2 linked regions of the Homo sapiens genome follow. The protein of the gene in region 2 purifies or fractionates together with the protein of the main gene of each other region. This does not show direct contact. Each region holds a gene or a part of one and is shown on either strand. Other genes may lie near its edges.

What was found.
Region 1: the proteins of LZIC (region 2) and CDK19 purify together in Homo sapiens (affinity purification with mass spectrometry, with the first as the bait; one large-scale study listed by BioGRID). This does not show direct contact.

The regions. Positions count from the first base shown.
Region 1 is NC_000006.12:110,609,155-110,612,973, forward strand, and holds the end of CDK19 (cyclin-dependent kinase 19), read right to left. Parts: 3' UTR 824-3,819; downstream 1-823.
Region 2 is NC_000001.11:9,933,335-9,937,157, reverse strand, and holds part of LZIC (protein LZIC), read left to right. Parts: intron 1-530; coding exon of another isoform or gene 531-538; coding exon 539-639; intron 640-1,530; coding exon 1,531-1,666; intron 1,667-2,297; coding exon 2,298-2,396; intron 2,397-3,823.

The sequences.
Region 1 (3,819 bases), on a different chromosome or scaffold from region 2:
CCCTGTTCCCAAGAATTTACAGTCTGTTAAGGTGATGGACATCACCTTCCCAGTTCTCCCAGGAGTGGTAAAGGGTTTGTCCAGTCATCTGCTTTGTCTTACCCAGATGGCTGGTGAGAAACGCAGCCGAGGCCAATGAACAGCTTTGCAGAAGATCTATCCTACAAATAGCACAGCACTGAGTATGAAATCTGTGCCAAAAAGAGAAGCAGCCAAGTGGGATGTGATTATTTTAAATAGAAATGAAAGCTCTGTATTCATGCCACTTAAACATTGTTCAGTTCACTCTGTGATGCCTTTGGATATTGGAGTAACAACCATAGAAGATTCATCAAACAAATTATAGAAGGAGCAGCCAGGTACCACAGAGTGCTCTTATAAAACAAGAAACTCCCAATCCAACCCCATCCACAAAATGCTTATTAGTCTTTTCTAATTCTCATTTATATTTTTTTAAAAAGATGTTTCTCCTAAAGATGTATAAAAACCTGCAATTTTACTTATGAGGTATTTGCAGGCCTTGCTTGCTTTGCAGTATTATGACATCATAGCATCCTGAACAAAATAACATATTAGAACTCACAGAAAGACTTCGTATCTCTGCAGGAAAAGTGTAATTATAAAAGCTTCTAGGCACACAGATAAAATTTTAACGCTAGATGGGGTCTCACTATGTTGTCCAGTCAGGTCTCCAACTCCTGGCCTCAAGCAATTCTTCTACCTCAGCCTCCCGAAGTGCTGAGATTACAGGCATGAGCCACTGTGTCCAGCCACTAAGCCTTATTATAAGATTTTTTTTATATTTAAAAAATCCACACAGAAGCAAAGTCAATTAAATTTTATTTCAACCAAGAATATAAAATAAATGCAATGTAATTTATTTTAGTTTTAACAGTCATTTCAAGAAGGAAGTCAGGTCAACTCAAAAGCAGGAAACCCTCGCTCCAAAGCAGTAGCTCGTCCTGCACTCCATGGAGCAGGCCTCGCTGGGGTGCAGCGGCTCTGAGCACAAACCTCGCAGTGGAGCACGAAAAGCTACAGTCATCTCTATAACCATATAAAGGGGGATGCGTGCAGAAAATGACTGAAAAAAGAGACAAGAACAGGTACACTTCACAAATAGGAATTATAGGAATATACAAACTAGGCAGTTTAGAAAGGATATACTACATAACATATATAAAAAGTACTTTAAATTGTTGTTAAAAAGGACACCTTCAGTCCAGATTTTGTGTAATACTTTTAGTGTCTACACAGACAAATCTTTAAAAAAATTAAATAGTATTAATTTACTAAATATTTAGGAGATAACAGTGCATTAAGGGTTTTTTTTTTTATATAATACATACATATCACCCCTTTGCAGTGATAGCATAGAAGAGTAAGTATGGCCTTAGGTACAACACGTTTTTTAAAAACCCTAAAACAATGAACTTTGTTATATTTGTGACTATTTTTGAGGATTATGGGGACCTAAACTGCTATGTTTTATACAAAATATTACTTGTACTTGAATCCTTCAAGCCTCTGTTGGTCTAACTGCCATTTCACTGCCTTTCTCTACTCCCTAGGAAGACATCATCATAGAGTTTTGGATTTGTAATTTCCATAGAATTCTTCCTTCATTGTATAGTTTCTGCTGCATAAATTTACTCAAAAGCACATCAAGTTGCATGTCTTATTTTCCAACTATTTTTTTCTTTTCTTTTACCTTTAGCAGAGAAAACAGCATCATTTTAGAGGCATAGAGAACAAGTAGCAGTTGCTTCACCAGGAATGAGGCAGCACACATAGGTAAATGTCATCCCTTTCCATTCTTAAGAGTCCATTATGTTCGTAAGAGCAAAAGAGTAGTGCAGAAGGCCAAAATTCTAAGTACTAAAGTTTCAAAACCACAGAGATATAAAAATATACATAATCCTTGGTCTTTGTATGTCACTGCATGATCTACTTCATCACAAGGATTGTTTCAGCCTCATAGTATCAGCCCTGCTGCCAAAGCTACCTTACCTTGAGCTCATCTGTCCTGCAACACTTGAATTCCTTTCACAAACACACACCTCCCCAGAAAGCTAACTCTGAAACTGGTTTGTAACACGAAGAGCAGAAAGCCTTCACTTGGATTCATTCCTTCCTGTCAATAACCCCTCCTAGTTTGGGTGTTCCCATAGGCTGAGGGATGCCCCTCCTGTACCCTTGGGGGACATAACAGTATCTAATAAATTTCAAAGAGAAATGCCATCATTTGGGGACCACAAAGGTAAAGTTTGCCCTCAAAAAGCTTCAAAGGTCTCCTTAGAGGTCCCACGGTTTGAGGGCCCTTACGTGTGTTAAAAAGGCTTTGTTCCCAACTGGGTGCGGTGGCTCACACCTATAATCCCAGCACTTCGGGAGGCCGAGACAGGCGGATGACCTGAGGTGAGGAATTCAAGACCAGCCTGACCAATAGGGTGAAACCCCATCTCTACTAAAAATACAAAAATTAGCCAGACGTGGTGGTGCGTGCCCGTAGTCCCAGCTACTCGGGAGGCTGAGGCAGGAGAATCACTTGAACCTGGAAGGTGGAGGTTGGAGTGAGCCAAGATCGTGCCACTGCACTCCAGCTTGGGTGACAGAGCAACACTCCGTCTCAAAAAAAAAAAAGGCTTTGTTCCCCTTTAAAGGAAAGAAAATGATCCAAAATTATTACTAAGGGTAAAGGGAATCAGTGGGTAGCACGAACCCTGAGGCAAGGAAAGAGGAGAAAAGAGCCAGTACCAGTGCAGGGATAGGAACTCAGTCATGTGTGGAATGGAGATTTCTGGCTATGTCCTGGAGGATATTGTATACTGGGAGCAACTGACGAAATCCCCTTACAGTTTATATTTCAGTTCTGCCAGCAAAAGTCATTATATACAAGGAAAACAGGGTAGTTCTGTGAATGTATAAGCGTAAGAACTATTTAACAATGCTGCTTATAAAGTATTAAGGGGCATAGTATTTTGGTTTACATATCTATCTGGGTTTGTCTTCTTTTATTAAAGGTAACCTCCTTGAGAGCAAGAACAGACCTTCTATTTTCCTTGCAATTTCCTACAACCACTTAGGAGAGTATGTTCTGCCTACAAGGACCACCCAGTTGTTGTTAAAAGGCTGCTGTGAACATTTCAAAGATACGTCAATGCCTTTTGTGATATTGAATCACTGGCTTTCTCTAAGGTAGACTGACATAGAAACCCTTCCATAATATTATTTACAGAACAGATTTGGGGATAGTAACTACCCAAGTGGGTTTAGAAGTAAACAAAAAGACCTTCATATTATAAGACAGTTTCACTTGTAAGTCAATCACATGGCACAGACATCCCAGGAGGGCTTACTGTCACAGATCACAAGCTCCTTAAGGACAAGAAGTATGCCCTGTCCTCTGTGTTCTCTACCCAGCAGGGCACCAGGCACATGGTGAGGGTGCAATAAGCATCTGATGACCAACAGCTCTGGACAGTGAGGCTTTAGGGCACAGGATAAAACTGCATATAGGCAGCTACATTATGCAGAGGGCTGCTAATTTCTTATTTTAAAAAATGGAAGGGGTAAAACAGCAGGAGACTATCAGAAACTCCTTCCAATGGAGCACGTAACCTGCTTCATCTTCAGTCTTGATGAGTGTCACTATGCAGACTTCATTATTAGTGAGCATTATTATGCTGAGATCAGTAAGGTCCTGGCTGGCTACAGTATCACATCAATAGTGCAAAATGTATACTGGCTTCTGTCTAATCTTATTTTACTTGTGTATGGACCCACAGTATCATAACCAGGTAGATAAGTTCAGAAAGA
Region 2 (3,823 bases):
CCTCCCAAAGTGCTGGGATTACAGGCGTGAGCACCGTGCCTGGCCTTTTTTTCTCTTTAGAGATGGGGTTTCCCCCATGTTGCTCAGGCTGGTCTTGAACTCCTGACCTCAGGTGATCCACCCACCTCGGCTTCCAAAAGTGCTGGGGTTACAGGCGTGAGCCACCACATCCGGCCTTTTTTGTATTTTTAGTAGAGATGGGGTTTCACCATGTTAGCCAGGATGGTCTTGATCTCCTGACCTTGTGATCCACCCGCCTCGGCCTCCCAAAGTGCTGGGATTACAGGCCTGAGCCACCGGCGCCTGGCCGCAGCTGCATATTTTTAATTGCACTAGGGACTGGGTGTGGTGGCTTATGCCTATAATCCCACCTCTTTGGTAGTCCAAGATGGGAGGGTCACTTTAGGCCAGATGTTCCGAGACCAGCCTGGGCAACATAGTGAGACTCTGTCTCTACAAAAAATAAAACTTAAAAAAATTGCACTGGTATGTTAATTTCATATGGTATGTGGGTTTATTGTTTCACATAGAGATTAAAATGGCTTCCAGAGGAAAGACAGAGACAAGCAAATTAAAGCAGAATTTAGAAGAACAGTTGGATAGACTCATGCAACAATTACAAGATCTGGAGGAATGCAGGTAAGAGTTTAATTGTATGTTGTTATGCTGGAAACTGGCGTTTTTTCTGCAGCTAGCTCCGTGGATGCAGGCCCATGTGTGATGATTCTGCATTCCCCTGTAGTGTTCTTTGCAGTGCTTTGTCTATTAGAGAAGTAAACTTATTGCAGGCTTTGGAGTCATAAAGGCTGGGAAATGAAAGTCATTCAGTTAACTACTAAGTGCATGTGAACTTGAGCAAAATACTTACCTTCCTTGAAGTAGAAATAACACCTACTTTGTCTTTAGTATTTAAATCAGTCCTACCTGCTGTCAGGCTAAGAAGGTACTACTTGAACTTCTGGCATGTAGTTTCAGCCTTACCTGCACAAAGGACCACAACAGTTCATTGCAGCTTTTTTTTTTTTTTTTGAGACAGAGTCTTGCTGTATTGCCCAGGCTGGAGTGCAGTGGCGAGATCTCAGCCCACTGCAACTTCTGCTTCCCAAGTTCAAGCGATTCTCCTGCCTCAGCCTCCCGAGTAGCTGGGATTACAGGCATGCACCACCATGCCCGGCTAATTTTGTATTTTTAGTAGAGACGGGGTTTTACCATGTTGGCTAGGCTGGCCTCGAACTCCTGACCTCAGGTGATCTGCCCATCTCAGCCTTCCAAAGTGCTGGGATTACAGGTGTGAGCTACGGCACCCTGCTTTATTATGTGGTTTCTTAAGTATCCTCATTTTGGTAAAAGAAAAATGTTTACCAAAGTAACTATATTGCAGGAAAATGCCCTCACTACTACTATGTGAACACATTCACCATCAGCATTTTGATATTTCCCTTCAGTCTTTCTCTAATGTACAAGTATTAAGATTGCATTTTTCACTTGGAACTCTTCATTTTTCCATATCATGATGTTCACCTATTTCAGAGAGGAACTTGATACAGATGAATATGAAGAAACCAAAAAGGAAACTCTGGAGCAACTAAGTGAATTTAATGATTCACTAAAGAAAATTATGTCTGGAAATATGACTTTGGTAGATGAACTAAGTGGAATGCAGCTGGTAAGTATAACATATAGGCGACAGAGGACAGACTTTGTTTTTTTGTTTGTTCTTGTTTTTGTTTGAGATGCATTCTTACTCTGTCGCCCAGGCTGGAGTGCAGTGGGGCAGTCTTGGCTCACTGCAACCTCCGCCTCCCAGGTTCAAGCGATTCTCCTTACTCAGCCTCCTGAGGAGCTGGGATTACAGGCATGTGCCACCATACCCAGCTAATTTTGTATTTTTAGTAGAGACGGGGTTTCTCCATGTTGGTCAGGCTGGTCTTGAACTCCCAACCTCAGGTATCTGTCTGCCTCGGCCTCCCAAAGTGCTGGGATTACAAGCGTGAGCCACTGTGCCTGGCCTTTAGTTTTTTTTTTTTAGAGATGGGGTCTTGCTACATTTCCAAGGCTGGTCTCAAACTCATGGGCTCAAGCAATCCTCCTGCCTTGGCCTCCCAAGGTGTAACTTCTAGATGAGTGTCTGTTTATGCATACACAACATATCCTTCCAGATCTTCATTTAGTTGTGTAATTGCTTCCATGACAGGAACCAGTAAACCTTGATAAAAATTAAGGATCCGTCAATCAGTTATTGCAATATCTGATTTGTTGGACTATTTTGGTTAGTTTTTGCCTTCTTGTGTTTCTAGGCTATTCAGGCAGCTATCAGCCAGGCCTTTAAAACCCCAGAGGTCATCAGATTGTTTGCAAAGAAACAACCAGGTCAGCTTCGGACAAGGTTAGCAGAGGTAAAATTTCTTTAAATTGATTTGGTTGCTGTGTGTTTTTCATTTCCTAGGCCAATTCATTATGATATCCTATGGCTTAAAAATTTGCCAGGTGATTTTAGAGCCACAACTAACAATTTTCTGACAAAATTAGTACTTTGAGCAATTATAGTTGATAATGAATGTAGAGCTTTAAACAATATACGGCAGTTTAAATTGCCACTGACCACTTCTACCTGGACTCCACCTTTAATGTTTTACCATTTACTTCTGGAGCTCTAACTTAAAATCACATTGAGAATTAATTAGCAGCATTGCTTGTATGCATGTGTAGCCTATCTCATCTAAGAATTTCAAGTATCTTTGTAAACCTGATACTTCCAGAAGTCTGTTTATAGGCTTGGATGTAATTAAGAGTTACCAAATTATTTGTAAGTATGGGCAATTCAGTAGCATAGTGATTCAGAGCATGGACTTTGGTCAGACTGGCTGGATTTGAATTCCTGCTTCACTACTGAGGTATGTGACAAGTTTTTTATGTTTTTTTTTTTTTTTGAGATGGGGTCTTGTTCTGTTGCCCAGGCTGGAGGGCAGTGGCGCAATCTCGGTTCAGTACAACCTCTGCCTCTGGGTTCAAGTGATTCTCTTGCCTCAGCCTCCTGAGTAGCTGGGACTACAGCAGGCACATGCCACCACGCCTGGCTAATTTTTGTATTTTTAGTAGAAATGGGGTTTACCATGTTGTCAAGGCTGGTCTTGAACTCCTAACCTCAAGTGATCTGCCCGCCTCAGCCTCCCAAAGTGTTGGGATTATAGATGGGAGCCACTGCGCCTAGCCTTTTGTTTGTTTTTTGTTTTTTTGTTGTTGTTGTTGTTTTTGAGGCAGGGTCTTACTTTGTCACCCAGGCTCAGTGTAGTAATGCAATCTCGGCTCACTGTAGCCTCTGTCTCCTGGGCTCAAGCGTCTCCCATCTCAGCCCCTCAAGTATCTGGGCCCACAGGCACAACACCACCACACCCCACTAATTTTTGTATTTTTCATAGAGACAGGGTTTCACCATGTTGGCCAGGATAGTCTTGAACTCCTGAGCTCAAGCAATCCACCCACCTCAGCCTTCCAAAGTGGTGGGATTACAGGCATGAGCCACTGTACCTGGCCTGGACAACTTATTTTATTCATCCCCTTTGTGCCTAGGTTTCTCTGTCTGTAAAAACATGACAAAGATAGTCCTTACCTCTTATGGTTCTTATGAGGATTAAATGAAGTAATATGTGTAAAAGTACTTTGAATATTCCCAATGTGTGGTACATGCTATTAGTGTTTCTGGTGGAAGAGGTGATATTTTACTAGATGATTTACTAGAACTGCATTTAACATTTCTATCATATTTGCCTTGGATTATATCTGTAGTTCTTTATAATATTAATCAGCTAGAGGATTTTTTTTT